Regions from separate parts of the Homo sapiens genome. Here region 2 is linked to region 1. A link means that fine-mapping ties the variant in region 1 to the expression of a gene that starts in the linked region. Tissue or cell type: aorta. Region 1 holds a variant in brackets; the other region holds the start of a gene. All regions are shown on one strand. Distances are from middle to middle.

What was found. PIP is the estimated chance that this variant, and not a neighbour inherited with it, causes the effect.
Region 2: it holds the start of NUDT14, and the variant in region 1 is fine-mapped to the expression of NUDT14 in aorta (GTEx, PIP above 0.99).

Annotation. Positions count from the first base shown.
Region 1 is chr14:105,146,373-105,156,785 of GRCh38, forward strand. JAG2 (jagged canonical Notch ligand 2) reads right to left here. Exons shown (of 26, transcript NM_002226.5): 4 at 9,366-9,617; 5 at 9,190-9,250; 6 at 5,789-5,919; 7 at 5,566-5,685; 8 at 5,254-5,367; 9 at 4,911-5,024; 10 at 4,619-4,732; 11 at 4,493-4,539; 12 at 4,232-4,405; 13 at 2,798-2,948; 14 at 2,565-2,717; 15 at 2,373-2,486; 16 at 1,954-2,067; 17 at 1,744-1,857; 5 more. It overlaps MIR6765 (microRNA 6765), which reads right to left and starts at 4,492; the gene lies at 4,406-4,492. RefSeq lists an enhancer at 8,619-9,217. The variant G/A (reference allele first, on the strand shown) is at 4,758.
Region 2 is chr14:105,175,785-105,186,197 of GRCh38, forward strand. NUDT14 (nudix hydrolase 14) reads right to left here and starts at 5,528. Exons shown (of 5, transcript NM_177533.5): 1 at 5,345-5,528; 2 at 1,908-1,951; 3 at 1,179-1,243; 4 at 750-987. The coding sequence starts at 5,425. RefSeq lists a silencer at 5,228-5,697.

The DNA.
Region 1 (10,413 bases):
GGCTGCCCTCACCTTGCTGCAGTCACGGCGGCCATCCAGGCAGCGGCAGCTGTTGCAGTCTTCCACCCAGGAGCTTCCGTGTGGGAACGGAGTGCCCCGGGACCAGCAGGATCTCCCGAACCCGATCACTGTGGGGAGAAGGGGCTCGAGGGTCAGCAGTGGGCATCTGGCCCTCGGGGCTGGGTGTCACCCATGCCCCCCAACCCGCCCCAACCCAGGGCAATCACACGGGGCCTACCTTCCTGGCACCGGGGGCCGGCTCGGCCGGGTGGGCAGCTACAGCGATACCCGTTGATCTCATCCACACACGTGGCCCCGTAGGCACAGGGCGAGGACTGGCACTCGTCGATGTCTGCAGGGAGAGCCACCGCTGCTCAGTGCAGTGAGGCCAACGCCCACCGCAGGACCGGCATGGCCTAGGGCAGCGGGGAGCCAGTGGCACACAGGCGCAAGCCCCAGGACAATGAGGAGCAGCCCCTGCCCCCGAGCCCAAGCTGCTGCCTGCCTGAGGCCTTCCTGAGCCCAGCCTGACCCTGGCCCAACAGCACCCTCCTCCGTCTGCTTCTGCAGTGGGCCTGTCCCATCCTGGATTAGCCCCAGCTGCTGCGTCGGACCAGCCAAGGGGTGCTGGACAGACAGCTGGGCCAACACCCAGGGACAACAGCCCTGCGGCCACAGAGGAGCCCACGTCAGGCTGCACGCTCCAACCCCCACAGCTCCCTGGGCCCCGGACTGGTCCCCCAGGCTGGGGCTCCCCACTTAATCACTTGGCAGGGTATACAGCAGGAACCCCACAGGGCACAGACATGTGGGGAAACTGAGGCTCAGAAGAGAGGCAGGAAGTAGTTGTGGCCACACTGCCCTTCAAGGGACGTGGACGTTGATGTCCCCAGACTCCTGACACCGCGGCTGGGCTGAGGGGCTCCCAGGGCTGGGGCTGTCTGGCCACTCACTGATGCGGCAGTCAGGCCCCGCGAAGCCAGGTGCACACTCGCAGCGGAACCAGTTGACGCCGTCAACACAGATGCCACCATTGTAGCTGCAGAGCAGAGGGTGGGCATCAGGTGGCCCCCCGTGGTATGCCAAGTCCCACCCACCCCTGCTGTGGCCCCCAGGGTGCCACTCACCAAGGCAGAGGGTTGCAGTCGTTGGTATCTGGTTTGGGAGAAGAGAACGCAGGGGATCAGTACCCACCCCCCAAGCGTGCCAGGCACTGTCCAGGCTGGCTTGGCGTGATCAGGCTGTGGGGCTGGGGAGGGTCATCAAGGAGGGTGCCTTTTGCTGGGGGCAGGGGCAGCAGGGGGAGGGGCTGGCAGAAGGGACTGGGGGGCGAGTCGGGGGCAGGGATGTCATCTGGGTGGAGGAAAGCGGCCCCCGCCCACACCCCTCCCACACTCACTGTGAGTGCAAGTACGACCCTCCCAGCCGTCCCGGCAGATGCAGGAGAAGGAGGCCCCGCTGCCCACGCAGGTGCCACCATTCACACAGGGGTTGGGCAGGCAGCTGCTGTTCTTGGCTGTAAGGAGAGGAGGAGGAGGGAGCGTCTCACCTGGCCCTGGGCTGGCCCTGGGTCTCCATACCGCGCCCCCAACCCAGACAGGGCAGACAGACCCGGGGGCAGGGGGCAGGGGGCAGGTGGCAGGTGTGGCCCTCAAAAAAGACCCCTCGGCCCATCGCGCCCGAGGGAGCGGTGCCTGGGAGGGCATATGCCCGGCGGTCGCAGAGGCAGCGGGGGCTCCTCACCGACGGCGCAGGTGCTGCCCTTCCAGCCGGGGGGGCAGGCGCAGCGGAAGGTGTCGCCGCTGTCGTAGCAGGTGCCACCGTTGCTGCAGGTGTAGGCATCGCACTGGAACTCGCCTGTTGGCACATGGGCCGCTCAGCAGGCAGGCCCCAGACCGCCAGGGCCAGGGTCCTGGGGGCAGCCCCAGGCGGCCAGGGCCTGCGGACACTCACGTGAGTGGCAGGTCTTGCCCTTCCAGCCGTCGTCGCACGCACAGTAGAAGTCATTGACCAGGTCGTAGCAGCGGCCGCGGCTGTGGCAGGGATCGGGAAGGCAGTCGTTGGGATCTGGGGGCGAGGACGCCGGTCAGCGGGCGGGGGGTCACCGGCGCTCAGGGAGGGCTTCCCGGGGGAGGAAGCACTGGAGCTGGGCCAGGTGAGGACAGAGAGGGGCGGGGGAGGAGCGTCGGGCCGGGGGAGCTGGCCTCGGGCATGGGGGCAGCCTGGGACTCCACCCCATGGTGGCAGCACCCCCTGGCCAGGCCTTTCTGGGTACGGGGCCTGCCGCACCCAGACAGCGGTCCATCTCAGGGTGATAAGGGGCCCACAGGGGTGGAGGCACAGGCCGTGTGGGCGGGTGCTGGAACACTCACTGGTGTCGCAGAGCTCGCCCTCCCAGCCGCTGGGGCAGAAGCAGCGGAAGGCGTCCACCTCATCGATGCATGTGCCCCCATTGCGGCAGGGCTGGCCCAGGCAGTCGTCAATGTCTGCAGAGGCGAGCGGGGTGAGCCAGGGCCTCAGGCCAGCCCAGCCCCACCACCAGCCCGCCGTTCGTGGCCACTCACTCTCATGGCAGTAGGTGCCAGTAAAGCCACTGTCACAGATGCAGGAAAAGTTGCCCCCTGGCTGGCTGACGCAGCGTCCATGGGGGCCACACACGCCGGAGGCTGCTGTGCCAGGCATCCCAGGCCCCGCGTCTGACCCGCAGCCATCGATCACTATGGCAGGCAGTACAGTCAGGAGTCAGGCCCGCCCCTGCCCCACCACCTCCCCCACCACCCCATGCCGCACCCAGCACCTCTGCAGGCCCCGCCAGGGCACGGCTCGCGGGGCACGGAGCAGTTCTTGCCACCAAAGTCATCAGGGCAGGCGCAGTAATAGTCACCCTCCAGGTTATAGCAGCGAGCGCCGTTCCGGCAGGGGCTTGGCTCACAAAGGTCGACATCCACCTGCAGGGTGGGGGGTGCCTGTGAGAGCCTAGGCCCAGGCCCAGGCCGGGAACACAGGCCAGGCCTCTGTCCATACGAAGGTAGATCCCTGGGGACCCCCAGGCCCCTCCGCCCTGGGCCTAACAGTGCCAGCCAGAGCCCAAGACCCCTGCCCACCTGAGACTGCCCAGGCCTTAGCTGAACGCAGATACCTGTGGGCCCCCACCCCCACCTCCACTGCAGCCCAGCTTCCTCACTGTCCCTCGGGAGGAGTGTGGCCTTGGCCCCTGCTGCTGGCAGGAAGGACAGCTCCTGAGCCCCTCACACACTGCCTGGCCACCCTCAGAGCCAAGACTGTGGGTCTTTTCCAGGGCCAGCCACTGCCATGCTTGCAGGTCCTGAGGTCAGACCCCTGCCCTGGGCCCCAAGAAGCCCTCTGGACAGGAGGCCCATCCTCTGCACCAAGGCCAGGGCAGGATCGTGGGCGGCCGAGGGTGGTAGGGAGGTGGGTGGGGGGAGGCAGGGAAAAAGGGGAAGTAAGGGGAGGGGGTGGTAGGGAGGCAGGTAATGGGGAGGCAGGGTTGGGGGAGGTGGGGAAGGGGGTGGTAGGGAGGTGGGTGGGGGGAGGCAGGGTTGGGGGAGGTGGGGAAGGGGGTGGTAGGGAGGTGGGTGGGGGGAGGCAGGGTTGGGGGAGGTAGGGGAGGGGTGATAGTGAGGTGGGTGGGGGGAGGCAGGGTTGGGGGAGGTGGGGAAGGGGGAGGTGGGGAAGGGGGTGGTAGGGGTGGTGGGGAAGGGGGAAGGCAGGTTACTTTGGAGGCAGGGGGGAAGGGGAGGTTGGGGGAGGGGGTCCAGTACCAACAGATGGTCAGAGGGAGGCGAGAGCATCAGCCCTGAGAGAGATGCCCACTCCGACCCAGGACTCACCTATGACAGGTGTATACCTCTCCACCATCAGGCACCCACCCTACCCCATGTGCTCTGCCCACCAGAGCCCCCTGCCCTCCAGTCCCGAGGGAGTGCACAGATGGACAGATAGGCCTGGGCAGCCAGCAGCCCGGGGGCTCCTAGCCCAGGCCACCAGGAAACCCATCACAACAAGCAATGGCCACAGGGGGCCAAGCCTGGTGACCTGTGACAGCCCCGCCTGCCCACCTGGCACCCAGTGGAGAGCTGAGCCTGGGACGCCTTGGGGACAACTTCCCCTGCAGCACCCCTGGGTCACTCAGGCCCCATGGTCAGGGGACGAGGCCTGCCCTACAGCTCCCAGAGCAGCAGGTGGGGCAGGGTGACCAGGCAGACCTCACCTCACAGAGAGGCCCGGAGAAGCCCTGGGGGCAGTGGCAGTGGAAGCCGTCGGCCAGGTCCTCGCAGAGGCCGCCGCTGTGGCAGGGGCTGCTGGCACACTCGTCTCGTTCCAGCTCGCAATGCCGGCCTCCGAAGCCCCGTGGGCACACACACTGGTACCCGTTCACCAGGTCCTGGGCGGGCCAGCCAGGTGAGCGTCCCGCAGGCACCCTGACGGCCCCGCAGCACCCACGCCACACACCCTCCTGGCCCCGCCTCACCTTGCAGGTGCCCCCATGCTGACACTGCCCGCGACAGTCGTTGACGTCTGGGGGCAGAGGAGCAGGGTCAGAGGCGGGGTCCCATGTGCCTCGGCCCACCCGCCGGCGCCCACCCCCCATACTGACTGATATGGCAGTTGATGCCCTTCCAGCCCGGGATGCAATCACAGTAATAGCCGCCAATCAGGTTTTTGCAAGAAAAAGCGTTAAGGCATGGCTTCCCTTCACACTCATTGGCGTCTGTGAAAGAGACAAGGTGGGAGCC[G/A]TGGGGCTCGGGCCCTGCCTGCCCCCTGCAGCACGGGCACCTGGCACCCGCAGCCCAGCAGCCCCAGCAGCCCCAGCAGCCCCCGCAGCCCCAGCAGCCCCCGCAGCCCGCATGCGCGGCCCACGTTCCCATGCACTCGCTCGGAGCCCTTACCCAGCTGGCAGGTGGCCCCCACCCACTGCTCGGGGCAGATGCACTCAAAGCCGTCCACCTGGTCCACACAGGTGCCACCGGCCGCACACGGGTTCGAAGCACACTCATCGATGTCTGCAGAGGGTGGAGAAAGGTGGGGCCCTGGCAGTGTGAGCCGTGGGAATAAGGTCCCCATGGGCAGGTGGCGCTGCAAGCCTGGGTCTTCCTGCCATTTGTCCTCGCCAAGCCAGCCGCAGCCACACGTGTGGACTTGACCACTGCACCCCATCCCCAGCGAGTTGCCCCACTCCCAGACCCCCACTGATACTAGGCAGGAGTCCCCTACTCACGTGCAGACACTCACCAAGGGCACAGGTGGGCCCGCTCCAGCCCGATGGGCAGTGGCATTCGAAGCCGGACGGCACCTCATGGCAAGAGCCCCCGTTGGCACACGGGTTGGAGGTGCAGGCGTGCTCAGCTGTAGAACCGCGGGGAGGGGGCAGAGCTGGCAGCCAGGCCCCCAGCTTTCCACAAGCACTCCTCCCCAAGCCCACAGGTTCCCAAGCTGGGGGTCAGGGGCCCACCACACAGGACGCCAGAGGGATGGGGCCTGACCGGCTCCCCAGGGAACCAGTCCCTGCCTGGCCAGAATTTGGGTGGCCAGCCCCCCACGTACCCTTCTCACAGTTCCTGCCCGAGTAGCCGTCAGGGCAGGTGCAGCGGTACTGGTCAGGCTCGGCGTTGATGCACGTGCCTCCGTTGGTGCAGGGGTGGTGGCTGCCACAGTAGTTCAGGTCTGGGGGCAGGGGTGGGATGCTCAGGGGAAAAGCCGGCCCCCCGCTCCCCCACAACCCACACTTCGATGGCAGAGCATTAGGCCTGCCGCCCCCTACCACTACCTTTGTCACAGAGCAGGCCGCCCCAGTTGGTCTCACAGTTGCACTGCCAGGGCTCCACACAACTGCCATGCACGCAGCCGGGGTAGGGGACACACTCATCGCAGAACCTCCCTTGCCAGCCGTAGCTGCACCTGGGGGAAGGAGGAGGGGCGCAAGACCCAGTGAGCTGTGGTGCCTGAAAGGGTGGCAGGGGAGCCAGGCACAGTCACCCACGCCACACCCAGGGCCGGCGGGCGGCCTCAGGCCTTTGAACTGGAGCAGCCCCAGCCAGGCAGGGGTTGCAGCCCTGCCGGCCAGCCCCACTGTCACGGGCATTCCCGGCCGCTGGCTGCCGACGGTCAGCCCCAGCTGTCCCGTCACTCCTCCCTGAGCTATTTTGGGATTCACCCGTGAGCTGGGCCCCGAGAGCAGGCACCAGGAAAGGAAGGCCCTGCCGGGACCCCGGGGATGAGAATGCCGGCTCGGACTCACAAGGTGCTGCCAGGGCCGGGAGGCACCAGGGGCTGGGTAGGCCAGCGGGCAGCAGGGGAGCACTCCTGGCTCTGCCTCGGCCATGTGGCCCTGGGCACAGCACGTGCCCTCGCCCCCACCTCAAAGGCAGTCATTTCGCTCGCTCCCAGTAAAGTCCCACAAGGTACCCATCTCACAGATGGGGCTACTGAGGCCCACAGGCTGGCCTGGGCCAGCCCTGCCCAGGGTAGTTCCTGATTCTGCAGGAGCTCCAGCTGCACCCCCAGCTGCACCCCCCAGGACACAACCACCAGGACTCGCCCTGCCCCAGGCTATCGGCCAACGTCCTGTCTTGGGAGTCCCCCAGGAGAGGGCAGGTGGCCAGGGTAGAACATGGCCTGACTTGAGGGTGCCTCCGTCAGGGGAGAGAGCCTGCAACGACCCCAAGGCTCAGCAGGCTGCCATCCAGGCCCTGCCGGGACTCCCGGGGGGCCCTTCCTAGAACTCTCCGGTCCTGCAGGACGGGAATGTCATCCAGGCCACGTCACTTCCACACCGGCACCCGCCACACTTTATTTTTGTAAAAGGAAAGAACCACGGCCCTTCCTGAGCCGCCCTCAAGCCACACAGCCAGCACCGAAGGCCTATCAGCCCAGTTCAGCTGCCACAAATGGGGAAACTGAGGCCGGGAAGAACGTGTCTCCAGTATCCAGCCCAGCATGCACAGTGGTCCGCGTGGGTGGCCTCACATCCCGCCTAGAATCCCTCCTCCACAGACACAGAGACCCAGGCTCAGGGCGGGGCTGTGACACACCTTGGGTCATCGGCCAGAGAGCGGCCACAGCCGGGCTCAGAGCCCAGACCTCGTGGGTCCCAAGGGCGTGCTCTCGACCCTGGGCAGGGCAGCCCACACCAGGCCCCCACCTCCTGGTTTCCCCAGCCAGCAGCCCCAGGGCCCTGGAGAGGCGGCGGCAGGAAGGCATGGCCATCTCCGCAGCATCCGGTGGGGGGGCGTCCTGCACTGGAACCTGAGCCGAGGCTGTCAGCAACAGCTGGGCCTCCCCGACAGGGCCAGCAAGAGGGGCAGGCGGAGCTCACCTACTGCCCCCACCCACCAGGCCCCCCAGACTCCGGCTCATCTTCCTGCGGGTAAAGGGCAGGGATGGCCAACTTCTCTGCTGCCTTCCTCCAGCCTTGGTGTGACATTCAAGCTGCCAGCCAGCAGCCATCCAGGGAGGGTGGCACTGCCATCCAGGTTGTGTGATGCACACTGGGCCAGGCGAGGGTGAGTGGGGCCGACTCCCGTAGATCTACATCTACATCTGCCCAGACCAGGTCCACCTTGTTGCACTTTCTGAGCTGACTTGGGACTCGCTCAACCTGCCGGGAATCCCTGTGTGTGCAAGTGACCGGGTGGGCGGCCCCAGCCCTGCTTGCCTCCCCGCTCTGGGACTGGCCGGGAAAGCTCCTCACTGTACCCTCCAGGCCACTCAACCGTGGGGCCTGTGGAAGGGTCACCCACCTCCCCACCTTGGCTCCCAACTCAGCTGGTTCCCAAACTCCCCGACTCCTCTCCAAAACGCCACGCTGTGTGACCCTGGGGAAATCAGTAGGCTCTCTGTGCCCCAGTGTCCTCGTCCCATGGAGGCAAACCCACTCCACAGAGGGAGGTCCTGGGACCCCTGCAATCCAAGGCTGGCTGGAGGGCGGTGCTCACCTCCACCTGCTGTCTCTCCACCCGCTCGCGCCCCTCTCTCGGGCTCCCCAGCTTGCTCACGCACAGTGAGCGCCACGGCTCGAAGCCCGTGCCCACCCCAGACCCTGGGCCCCAGCCCCTCTGGTTGCCCTGCTGACTTCTCTGCTCCACTCTAGGGCAAAGCTGCCAGCCCCCCTGGCTGGATCCCCCACACTCTGGTCTGGGTCCAGAGGCCTCCACCATCTGGACTTGGCTGTAAGACCCCGGACACTCCCTTGTGGAGGCCCTTGCTGACTCCTCATCCATCCGCCCTGACCTGTGGCAGCCGGGACTTGCTCCTTGGCCTCCCTCCTCTCTGCCTTCCCCACTTTCCCGTCACCGCCTGAATGCCACCCCCCACAGGCCCCGCGTGGCGCAGGCCAGGCCTCTCCCACGAGCTTTCTGGGTGTCTCCAGGGACAGGGCAGGCATCGCCTCTCCACATCCAGCTAACCCCGGCCCCGCCTGCTCCTCTGTGGCATTCCTCCTGCCACCATGGCTCTGCTACTCAGCAGCTTGGGGTTCTCCCTGACTCCACACCCTTCCTGCTTGATCAAATCCATCCACAAACCCCTGGGCTCCACCCCAGGATGTCTGCAGGACCCGTGCGCCTCTCCCCCTTCCACTGACCCCCTCCCCATCCCGCTGGCCCCTCCCCCACCACCCCCACATGCCCCACAGCGGCCTCCCCCTCACAGCCTCCCGTCTGGTGCTTCCCCACTCAACAGCTACCACAGCCCTTCCACCCACCTTGCCCAGCTACAAACCTGCCAGCAGCCCCTTCCTCTGTCCCTGGTCCTGCAGGCCTCAGCTCCCACCACTGGTCTGCTCTGCCGCCCCTCGCCTGCTGGTGTCACTTGCCGGCCGCTCGCCGCCCACCCCCTCCCCATGGGCAGGGTTACCGTGTCCTCTGCCCATGCCCCATCTCTGGGTGGCTTGCAGCCTCCGGGTCTCTGCCCCTCGGTGACGTGACTGTCCAGCCAGCCTCCCCAGTCTCTCCTCACTGTCCTCACATGGCTGCCGCCATCAGACACATCCCATGCTCAGACACGCACCTACTGCACTAAGGAGCCTCCCGAGCTCAGGGCCCGGCTCTCACAGCTGTGTGCCCAACCTCCAGCCAGCTCCGGGCGACTCCTGACAGCAAGGCTGTGTGTGCCAGTGAGGACGTGAGGGCAAAGGTTGGGAGGGCAAAGACGGGCCGGCGGCACACTCACCTGCACTCCCCAGGCACGGTGCATCCCCCGTGGAGCAAATTACACCCTTGTTTACACACAGCTGCGAACAGAGAGGAGCGAGAGGCACAGCTGCAGCCAGCCTGGCCGCAAGGCCTGTGCCCGGGGCCCTGCCCGAGGCCCTCCCTGCCCTCCACGCAGCCCAGCGGCCCCCTCACCTTCCTTGCACTCCTTGCCCATCCAGCCGTCCATGCAGGCCTTGTTGCCGTACTGGTCGCAGGTGTAGTGGCCGAAAAAGTCGTTGCGGGGCCGGCAGAACTTGTTGCAAGTGGCGCTGTAGTAGTTCTCGTCGCAGCGCACGCGGATCTGCAGCTCCAGGTGCGCCACGTGGCCGCTGAAGTGCAGGCTCTTCCAGCGGTCCTCCGGGTTGATCATGCCGGCATGCGACACTCGCTCGATCAGCAGCTCCTCTTGGGGAGGCGGCAGAGTCAGCACAGGCCAGAGAAACCAGCCCGGCCAGGGGTCCTCCAGGAACAACGGGGACGGGGCAGAAGCCTGCGGCTGCTGCAAGGCCGGGGCACAGCAGGCAGCAGCACACGGAGGGCAGGGCCCCCGGCCAGGCTGCTACAGAAAGCTCAGGGCCCCGAGAGGCCTCTCCCTCCCGCCACCAAGCCTGCGCCCCGCTCCCACCCTAAACGCAGAGGGTCGGGGGGCCCGGCTAGGGGCTAGGGGCCCTGCAGGGAGGGCTGCTGAGACCACAGGCTCCACAGAGAAGGCACGGCTGCTGCCAGGGCGTGAGTCTCACGTCCCACACCTGTGCCCACCCACCTGCAGCCCTGCTCCAACACCTGCACCCACCTGCGCCGTGTCCAGCCCTCGACAGCACGGACATGGTGCTCAGTTGCCCTCCCCTCTCCTGCGCTGTGACTTGCTCCCAGAAGTGCCAAACACCACTACCGTCCCCACCTTAAGACAAGCCTCCCCTCAGGCCCCCAAGACAGGCATAGGTCCCGTGACCCGCTGTCTAAGCCTCACTTTAAGTAAGCCACCAGGAGACCAGGGGCCAGGGGCACCACAGCTGCTGGCGCTGGTATGCAAAGTCCGTGATGCCGGTCCCTGCGCTTAGGCACAGGCTCGACGTTTTGCACAATAAAAGGTGAACGGGTCCTCCAGACCCCACCTCTCCCGCCTCGGGCCAAGGCCTGGGAGGACACTGTGCTGGCCCACTCCCCAAGGGGCGTCCCGGCCGCCCCAGCCTCTCCAGGC
Region 2 (10,413 bases), 29 kb after region 1:
GGGAGGGCCCCAGGCTCAACCCTGAGTGGCCCATGTGCCAGGCTGACAGGTGCAGAGACTTCCGGTGCTTCTCCCAGTGGAGCGGGCCCTGGCCTCTGGAGGAGGCTGTGGAGGCTGGTGCTCAGCTGGTGGGGGTGGGGGTCTGTGACACCCTCCTCCTTCCCCAAGACCTCAGCTGGGGTCAGGAGCCCATCGTAGCGTCCCTGGGGAAGTGGATGGGCTTCATACCAACATCTAGTCCTGGGAAGGCAACCCCACCCCAGCTGGCAGCCCTCGCGGGGCAAGAGTTGGTGCCTCGAGTTTGGTGGGTCAGGTCCCAAAGCGCAGGCTCTAGTGCCTGTTCCCCAGGAGAGCTGGAGCCACCCCTTCTCCAGCCCAGGACACAGCTTCTCCCTCATTCCTAAGCCACCCTCTGAGAACAGAGCTGTGAGTCACCCCCACCCCCAGCGCCCGGTCTTAATCCTACAGGAAGTAGAGGCACCTGTCAGCAGCAGCTGTCACCCGGCCTGCCTCACACAGCTGGGGGCCGCAGGCTGGGGGCATGGGGCCGAGACGCTGCAGAGAGAGCCCCAAGAGCCCAGATTCTGGCCTGGCTTAGGAGCTGAGGCGCATTCGGTCCAACCCTCCCCTAATCCCATGTTGGAAAACAAGGAGGAATCCATCCTGCTTGCACACTCCCAGGGACGGGGCCCTCACTCTCTCCCATCTCCTGAGTCACACCACAGGCCTGAGGGCCTGGTCCCACTCACCAGTATGTGGCGACCCGGCGCAGATCAGAGGGGGCCAAGTGGTAGCCACACTCCTCCCAAGCCTCCTTGCAAGCCACTTCCTCCAGCGAGAGCCCAGGCTGGTCCACGAGGCCGGCACACAGCTCAACTGTCACCCCCGCTGAGCCGGGCAGGGCTGGCTGTAGCTCCCGAGGCCCGTCCTGGTCTACAGCTGCTAGGGACCCTGGGAAGCGGCGCTCCACCTCACCCGCATACACAGCTGCGTGGGAAGAAGCCAGACTGTGCTCACAGCCACGTGGTGGCCACCTCCAGGTCACCCACACAGCCAAGCCCCCTCCCAGGGCCTCAGCTTCCCCTGGAGCCCCCTCCCACATCTGTATTCAGACCCTCAGGACCACAGGGACCTGAAGGTGACCCTGCAGATCCCCTTCCCACCCCAGCTGGCCTCACCTGGCCGGAACTGCTTCACCAACACCAGGCTCCTCCGAGAAGAGTTGAATAAGAGAACGGTCACGCTGTGTACGGGGGGAGGGGCTCAGCACAGAAGCACTCCACTGGCCCTCGTGGGGCCCCACCTCCCATCTTTCTGTTCCCAGCGTGGCCATCCCACCTCCTTGCCAGCAGCCCAGGGAGGTCAGGCCCCTTGCTCAGATAGGATGGCTGAGGCCCAGGCGGGACCAGAGCTTTCCAGGGTCACAGTCTGGCCAGGACCCAGACCTGCTGTATTCCAGCTGGCAGGATGGGAGGCGGGGGGCAGGGAAGGACACACGGGCAGCTGAGTAGGTCAGGGTGCTCGCAGCTGAGGCCGGGTGACTGACAGGACGTTTGGCCCTCACTGAGCAGCTGCCCACCAGCCACACTCCTCGAGCCACGTCGCCATCCAGCCCAGACCCTGGATGCTAGGGGCAAAGGCTCCAGGACAGCCTCTCCCTGCCCTGAGAGGGCCTGCCCACCATCATGGTCCCGGTGGCCTGAGCAAAGACCTGACTCAGCCCCCAGGCCTCAGGCTGACCCCTCAGGGATAGGAAACCCAGAGGCCGGGCAGAGAGAAGGGACTTTTGGAGCCCACGCAGGGAACAGCAACGTCAGGGAGGAGAGGGCACCTTCGCCCTGGGCCCAGTGTCCCCGTAGACATCAGTCTGGGGCTTCCCCAGTGGCCAGGCTGGGCCAGGCTCTCACCTGTCATGCGTCTTCATGAAGTCCCAGGACTTCTGGGCACCATTCTAGAAGGGGCAGGTCAGCGGTTAGAATGTCCCAGGATGGGCGGAGGTGCTCGGGGAACCGAGGAGGCCACAGACCCATTGCACCCACTCCTAACCAGGGAGATCGGCTCGTGGCCTGGGCCCACGGGAGCCAGGAACTGCAGCTCCCGTGGGCAGAGGAGCAAGCAGCCTGGGAGGGGCAGGGAGGTCAAGGACAGCCTAATACCCTACGAGTGAGGCAGAAGACCAGGGCAAAGGGCAGGGAAGGTGTCCAGGCACCTCATGAAACACTGCCCAGCACAGACCGAGCACAAGGGGCTGCAGAGAGACGTACACCGTCACCAAGTATAGGAAGGCTCATGGAGGCTCGGGGAGGGCAGGCGTGACTCCCTCACAGCAGGGCAGGAGGGCCCTGCAGGCAGAGGAGAGGTCAGGTTTTCCTGCTGATGCTTCCTTGGGCCACTGAACAGGTGGAGACGGGAGGGCAGGAGGGGCCGGCACCAGGAGTGGATGGGGAAGGGTGGCAGGAGGGGCTGGCACCAGGAGCAGATGAGGAAGGGTGGCGCCCCAGCCAGGTAGGAGATCGCACTGCAGGACTCGGTGACTGTCATGATGGTGACCAGGCTCGGCAGCCCCCCCACACACCCCTACCCCCAGTTTCTGGCCTCGACTCTCCCACATACCCTGTGGTCCCGTTCTCCTGTGGCCACCCTCCACCTTCCCACTCCCCCACACTGGGCACACCACCCTGGCAGGCCCCTGCACCCTGGGTGGCACTCAGTGAACGGAGGAGGCAGGGTGGGCAGGTGTGTGGGCTGGGCCTGCTGGGGGAGGCTGGAACTGATGCATTCTGAGATGCACTCCCATCCTGGGGGCTGAGCCTGGGGTCCCGCGGGGTCCCATCTCCGGCACGCTCAGCCCATCTGCCACTCTGAGGCCCAGGCCAGCTGCTCATCCCCCACCGGGGGCTCTGCCCAGGGCTGTGAAATGGACAAGAGGTCTGAGCAGCAGAGACACAGAAGTGCAGCCAGGACTGCAGAAGAGAGAAGAAGCCTTCCTGAGGACTTTCTGGAGGAGGTGACGGAAGTGAGGGAAGGGACTCTGGGCAGGCAGAGGCGCAGAGGCCCTCTGAGCTTGGCCGGGAGGCAAAGGCGTCCTGGGAGGAGAGTACCGGTTTCCAAGGGAAGGGAGGGCCGGCGTCCCGCGCAGGTCAGGCAGCCCGAGAGGCCGTGGGGTACCACTCCCGGGAGGCGACCCCAGGCCTGCCTGACACCCAGCCACCCCCGAACCACCACCCAGCCAGGGCAGGCTCCAGGGAAGCCCCCTGCCCACAGCCTGCCATGTGCCTGCTGTGCCCATGCCCCTTCCCCACCACTGCTTCCCCCCGAGTAACATCACCCCATGCAGGTCTCAAGGACCCTCTCAGCTCAAGGTCAAAAGCGTGTCAGACCCTTAGGTCCAGCCAGGTCAAGGTGCAGGGAGGTTTAGGGAGGCTGCTGAGGCCTGGGAGGGAGGGGCAGGGCTGGGTGCAAAGAAGACCCCATCGCCTCGGAGCCACGGGGGTCCCCTGCCTTTGGTCTGCCTGACATCACAGGCCTCCCCTGGCTGGACGCAGCAAAAAGCTGAGGGCTGCAGCTGCCCCTGGGTGGCAGCCAGCGTCCAGCCCAATGTCCCTTGGCCCTGAGGAGATGCCGCCCAGCCCGAGCCTACATCCGTGTCCACCACAGCCACAGCCCGAACCAGCTCAGCTCTGGTCACCAGAACCCTTCAGCAGAGCTGTGCCGGCGGGCTGCCCGCTGAGGCTGCAAGGGCTGCCCTGAGGCTTCACGGGGAGTGAGGGAGAGAGTGCTGCCACCAGGGCCACAGAGGGCACCTGCCTGGGCCTGCACCTGCTGCCTGAGACCCAGCCCTGTGGGGACTGTGCAGCCACAAGCAGGCATCCCATATGGCCAACGTCAGGGAAAAGGGCAGTGACCCCATGTCTCCACCTGCTGTACCCCGACTGATCCCAGCTGCCCCCTGCCAGCACCACCAGCTTAGCTTCGCCTTGGGGAGAGGGATCCCCTGTCCTCCAGCGCCAACAGGACTCCCGCAACAGGGAAAGTGAGGGGCACAGGGCCTCTCTCAGGCTGGGGGCCAAGAGGGCTTCTCCAGGATGGCGAGGGGCAGAGTCCTGGATGTGATGGGGGGGACAGGATGCCCCCTGAGGGAGGGAGGCAGGCAGGCAGAGAGGCACTGCGACCTGGACCACCTGACCTGATAGGCTGGGGGGCTGGACTGACTGTGACCAGGAAGGTGGTCTTTGCCTTAATGGCATGAAGGAGCTCTGGCAGAGGGGAGATCTGCTGGGGGCAGGTGGGCATGCAAGCAAAAGGTGGGGCCCTAACTGGACAGGGCTGGGCTTGGAGGAAGACGGCCCGGGACTCAGTGATCCACTGGATGTGGGAAAAGGATGGCAGCAGCTCCTTCACCCAACACATATGCCTCATGCCTGTAATCCCCATGCTTTGGGAAGCCAAGGCAGGAGGATCGGTTGAGGCCAGAAGTTCAAGACCAGCCTGGGCAACAGTGAGACGTCGTCTCTACAAAAAAATTTAAACATTAGCCAGGTGTGGTGGTGTGCACCTGTGGTCCCAGCTACTGGGGCGGGGGCTGAGGCAGGAGGATCGCTTGAGCCCAGGAGGTTGAGGCTGCAGTGAGCTGTGACCATGCCACTGCACTCCAGCCTGGGCGACAGCAAGACCCTGTCTCAAAAACAAAACAAAACAAAATATTCCTTGTGAACCTACCATGTGCCTGGTGCTAAGTGAGGCAATACAGCCTCTTGTGCCGTGGCCTGGCATGGGAGAAGGTGACACCCTAGGAGGTGGGGAAGGCTGAGCTTAGGCAGATGGAGACTCCAAGGAGGTGCCCTCCCTGGAAAAAACCCCAAGGAGGAAGCCTGCTTTGAGAGGCTCTCTCAAGTTCTCACTCAGCTCCTTCTCCTACCTCCCTGCGCCCGGCCTCTGCGCTCCTTGCTCCCTCCTCCTCGGCCCAGCTATCTCCTCCTTCAAGTGGTAGCATGAAAGCCACCACTTCCAGGAAGCCTTCCCTGATCCCCAGGGCAACCAAGGAGTTCCACTGCCAAGAGGGTCGGATTGGGCGGGCGGGAAGGATGGGGCCCAGCAATGCTTCCTTGAAAGGATGAGTGGTGCCCCCTCAGATGTCCCTCCCGCGGCCCCTCCCCGGCCTGGGGGCTCACTGGGTCTGGGAACCCGCGATCCGGCGGGCGGACAAGCGGCCGCCCGGGAGATCGGCGGGAGGCGGGGGCGGGGCTCCGGGGCGGGGCCGGCAGCGCGGAAGATGGTGGGCGGGGCGCGGGTCGTGGGCCGGGCCGCCGGCGGGGGCGCGGGGGACGCGGGGGCGCGGGCTCACCTGGCGGTAATGCAGCGTGAGCGGCCGCAGGTAGGGTGAGGCGGCGCAGCGGCCCACGGACGCCCCCTCGATGCGCTCCATGGCGGCGCCCGGACAGGCGGGGGCCGCGAGCTCTGCGGGGGCCGACACGGGGCGGCGCCCTGTCCCGACAGGAGCCTTCGGGCGGGCGCGTGACCGCGGCTCTGAGCATGCTCCGTGGGCGCGCGGGGCGGGGCGGCCGAGGTGGGCGGGGCGGCCGAGGTGGGCGGGGCTCGCAGGTGCCACCTGTCGGGTGCCGCGCGCCTCGGGGCGCTGGTCGCCGCGGTGCCAGGGAAGCCGCGCAGGCACGTGGGCGTCGCCCGGGGGAAGGACTGGCCGGGTCGACCCCGGCCGCCGGGCGGGGCCAGCCGGGCCGGGGTACAGTGCTTGGGTGGGACTCGGGACCTCTTGGCTGGGGGAGGGAGGGCCTGGCGGTGGTTGGAGCTAAGGGCCTGCAGCTTTGGGGTGCGATGGGCCGAGCGGATGCCTCCCCACTCTGGGGATGGACCACAACCCCGAGATTAAGTTACTCCAGGGGTCCGCGGGCGGGGCCGGGGGCGGGGCAGCCCCCCAGGGAGGGAGGGACTGTGGGCCCAGGAAGAAAATCACAGGAGACCAAAGAGAGAGGGCCCTGGAAGGAAGCTAGGGGAGAGGAGAGTAGGGAGCTGGAGGGGCCAGAGCTTGGGCCGAGGGGGCCTCCCCTCGAGGTTCCTGGTGGCGAGGGTGGCTGGGAGCTGCCACGCTGTCTCTGGAGCTGTCCCTCCTCCACTCAAAAGCCAGCTGCCCTTCCCTCCCCCTGCAAGTCCTACCTTGATGACGGCCCTTCCTGGGTGTGGGAGGGTCCCAGGCAGCTTCAGTGCTTCCTTGGGCATGGATTCCAAGGACCCCCTCCAAATGCCACCACGGCCTCCACGGGGGCAGGAAACAATATTGAGGCCCACACTGGCCCTGAACCCTGACCTGCACCTGCTTTCTGAACTATGGCCCAGGGGACATGCTCAGGGTGGACTGGCCATGTGAGCTTGAAATCGACTCCCAGTTCCCTGTTAACTATTGCCGTGTAACAAAACACTCCTCCAAAGCTTAGTGCCTTAAAGCACCCCGTTATCGCCTGGCCTGTGGGTTGCCCAGCTCAGCCAGGCAGCCCTGTCTTGGGGTCTCTCTGCAGTTGTAATCAGGTGGCAGCTGGGGCTGGAGTCGTCTGAAGGCCAAACGGGGTGGACCGTCCAGGATGGCCTCTTCGCCCCCGCCCTCAGTTGGGTGGCTGGAACAGCTAGGGCCGGCTGGCCTCCCATGTGGCTGGCGTGGGCTTCCCTGCAGCATGGTGGTCTCGGGGTAGTTGGATTCTCCCGTGGCAGCTGGCTCCCTCCAGAGCACGTTCACCAGGCCAGGCCAAGCTGCCAGGCTTTGTGTGACCTGGCCTCAGATGTCATATGGTGTCATTCCTGGGGCATCCTGTGGGTCAGAAAGTCCTGGGCCTCCGGCAGATTCCAGGGGAGGGACATCACCAGGTGGGAACGCTGGGGAGCACGGTCATGAAGCCAGCATCCAAGTCCAGCTGTCACCGCCCCAGTAGCTCTACAGGGGCCTGTGTCTCCCTGCTTTAGCCATTCCGCCTGGTGTCCCGGAAGCCAGAGCGCCCAGCCCAGAAGCTGGCCCCACCCTACCCCACAGCCAGGCAGGCCTCTTCCTCCGGTGCACGAGGGGCCCAGGGTAAGCGCGCACCCTGGCATGTCGCGTGCAGGCTCCTTCCTGCCCGTGGTTGCATGGAAAATGAGGATGAGTCTCAGCTTCCAGCAGCAGCAGCCCCGGGACAGGCAGAGGCAACAGGAGCCCCATCAAGGAGCCCCTGGGAGAGCCAGCAGCTCCTCAAAGCACCGTGCTCCTCAGACTCACTCGGGTCCAGGTGTCTGGCAGTGCAGACTGCAGAGCTGAGTGCCTGAAAATATCAGCAAGGAGCCCACTGTGGGACGCAGCCTGGCGGCTCCTCAAAAAGTTAAGCATAGAATTACCCTGTGGTCCAGCAACTGTCTTCCTGGGTATCCACCCAAAGGAGTTGAAAACAGACACTCAGACAGATGCTTCCTCACAGCAGCCAAAGGGAAGAACAACCCAAGCATCCGTTGCCAGGTGAATGGATCCAGAAAATGCAGTGTAGACGTGTAAGGTAGCACAACTCAGCCATGAGGAGAGAAATTCCCACACAAGCGACAGCGACACTATGCTCAGCAAAAGAAGCCAGACACAAAGGCCGTGTCCTCTGCGATTTTGTGTATATGAAATGTCCAGGCCGGGCGCGGTGGCTCATGCCTGTAATCCCAGCACTTTGGGAGGCCGAGGCAGGCAGATCACGTGATGTCAAGAGTTCGAGACCAGCCTGGACAACATGGTGAAACCCTGTCTCTACTAAAAGCCAGCCGTGGTGGTGTGTGCTTGTAATCCCAGCTTCTCGGGAGGCTGAGGCACGAGAATCGCTTGCACACGGGAGGGAGAGGTTGCGGTGAGCTGAGATCTTGACACTGCATTCCAGCCTGGGTGACAGAGTAAGACTCCATCAAGAAAGGCAAAGGCAAAGGCAAAGGCAAAGCAAGGCAAGGCAAGGCAGAGAAAGGGAGGGAGGGAGACAAAAAGCAAGAAAGAAAAAAGAAAATGTCCAGAACAGGTAAATCCATGAGACGGAAAAGCAGCTGCGGACTGGTGGGGCTGAGGGCGGGAGAATGAAGAATGCTGACTAATGGGTGCCGGCTTTCCTTTCCGTTTGGGGTGAAGAAGGCATTCTGGAAGCAGGCAGTGCTGGTGGCCGCACAGCAGTATGAATGTACTGAATGCCGCTCAGTGTGCACTGTGAAGTGTTTAATGTTCTGTGAATTTCAGTTCCATTTTAAACAAATTTTATTTAGAGATAGGGTCTCATGATGTGGCTCAGGCTGGACTTGAACTCCTGGCCCCAAGCAATTCCCCCACCTCGGCCTGCTGAGTAGCTGGGACTACAGGTTCACACTACCATGCCTGGCTCGGTTCAATTTTTTTTTTTTTAAAAAAAGGAAAAACCAGTGTCACTGAGGCTATTCAGGAACATTCCATGCTGTCTATGACCACAAGGCCACTGCCCACACGTGGAGCTGAGGACAGGGCAAGTGAGGCCTGCTGTCCCTCCGAGATGGAAAGGGAGAAAAGGCAGAAGCAGCCCAGGCACTTTACCAGTTCCTGCTGTGCACTGGGGTGGCTCGAACAGGTGATTCGGGGCAGGCCTGATGTCACAAGAAGTTAGGACAGGCATGCCAAGAGGCAGAGGACAGCCTCCCCGAGGACACGACACTCCCCAGAAACCCGAAGATCCAAGGCAGGAGAAAGGAAGCTGTCCTGGCAGGAGGAGACCGAGGCCAGAAGAGGCGTTGTGGCCCTGGGGGCAGCTCCCTTGGCCTGTGCTTGGCACATCCCCTGGGGCCACTGGAAGTCTCGGAGGGGTTGGGCAGGGCAGGTGGTCAGATGCCCCTCTGGGAGGTCACCGTGGCTGCCTGGGGCCGGGGGAGGAGGAGACTGGTCCGAGGGCCTTTGGCTGTTGTCCAGAGTGGTGGCTGTGCAGAGGATGGCTTCGTTCCCCATGGAAGCAGGTGCAGGAGGAGGAGGAGGAGCTTGATTTGGGGAGGGGCTCCAGGAGGGGGAATGAGAGGACTCCGTGTGGCCAGGTGGCCTGAGAGCCACAGTGGAGAGCTCTGAAAAGCCACCTCTGGCTTTGGCAGTGTGGAGGCTTCAAAGACCCTGCTGAGCATAGTGGCAGAGGCCCCTGCAGATGCCCTGTAGCGGGGCCAGAGGGCATGTGGGGTGAGAGCACCAGTGTCAGCTCCCCAGGGCTGCCAAGACAAACCACTGCCAACCCAGCAGCTGGGAACAGCACGGCCATGGCCTTCCAGCCCTGGGGGACGGGTGTCCAAAACGCATCCCACCGGGTGAAGGTCAAGGGTCACAGGGCGGCTCCTTCTGGGGGCTCCAGGGGAAGATCCATTCCTTGTCTTCTCCAGCTTCCGGAGGCGGCCCCCGCCCCCTCCTCACCTTCAAGGCCAGCAGAGCGCCCCTCCGTCCTCCCCCGACTCTGCCTCCGTCCTCGCGTCTCCACCCTCCTGCTCCCTCTTCTGAGGTCCTTGTGACCACAATTTAGGGCCCCCCCGGGTCATCCGGGGCCATCCGGGGCCATCTCCCACCTCGGGTCCTTCTGTTAGTCAAACCTGCTAAGTCCCCTTTGCCACAGAAGGTCCATACTCGCAGGTTCTGGGGATCCAGGTGTGGACTCTGGGGAGGATGCGTCGGGAGGGCATCACCACCAGGGCAGGACCCTGTGGCGCCAGGATCTGCAGCCTGGGGCCTCGCCCCGCAGCAAGTGGGCGGGTTTCTTGCAGGACACCTAGGAGACCGCTGTGGGCTTCTGTCCCCCTTCCTCTGTAAGGGGAGTGAGGCAAGGGCCCCTGCCAAGGATGAGATGGGAGGGGAGGGAGGCGAAGTGGCCCCTGTTGGCAGGGGGCTTGGGTGCGGGCTCCGAGGGGGCCTGGGGAGCAAGGCTTCCTGGTGGCACCGGGCTGGGGATGCTCCTGGGCCATGCTGGAGGCAGGGCAGGTACAAGGGGGGCCCCTGGGCTCCTCCATGGCTCAGCTCCTTCCCAGTAAGGTCACAGGCAGCAGGTGGATTGGAGAGTTGAGGACACTGAGCAGGGAGCTACAGGCATGACAGAGCCCAGGTGGGGGTGCGGGGGGTGGGGAGGACGTGGGGGAGTCAGGGGCGGGAGGGGTGCAGGAAAGCCAGGGGCGGGGATTCCGAGGTAAGTGCAGAGGGAGTGTCCCGAGAGAGGCTGAGTTGAGGGGAAGCTGGAGGAGGATCAGGATGGGGGGTCAGGAGGTCGGGGGTGTGGGGCACAGAAGTCCACTGGGTGTGGGCAGGAGTTGAGTGCAGAGTGCTCATAAGTGAGCAGAGTGGTGGGCTCCAGGACTGGCAGTGGGGTGCTGGGGGGATACAGCAGAGACCACACCCGGAGGAGCAGCAGGGGGCTGGGCCGTGTG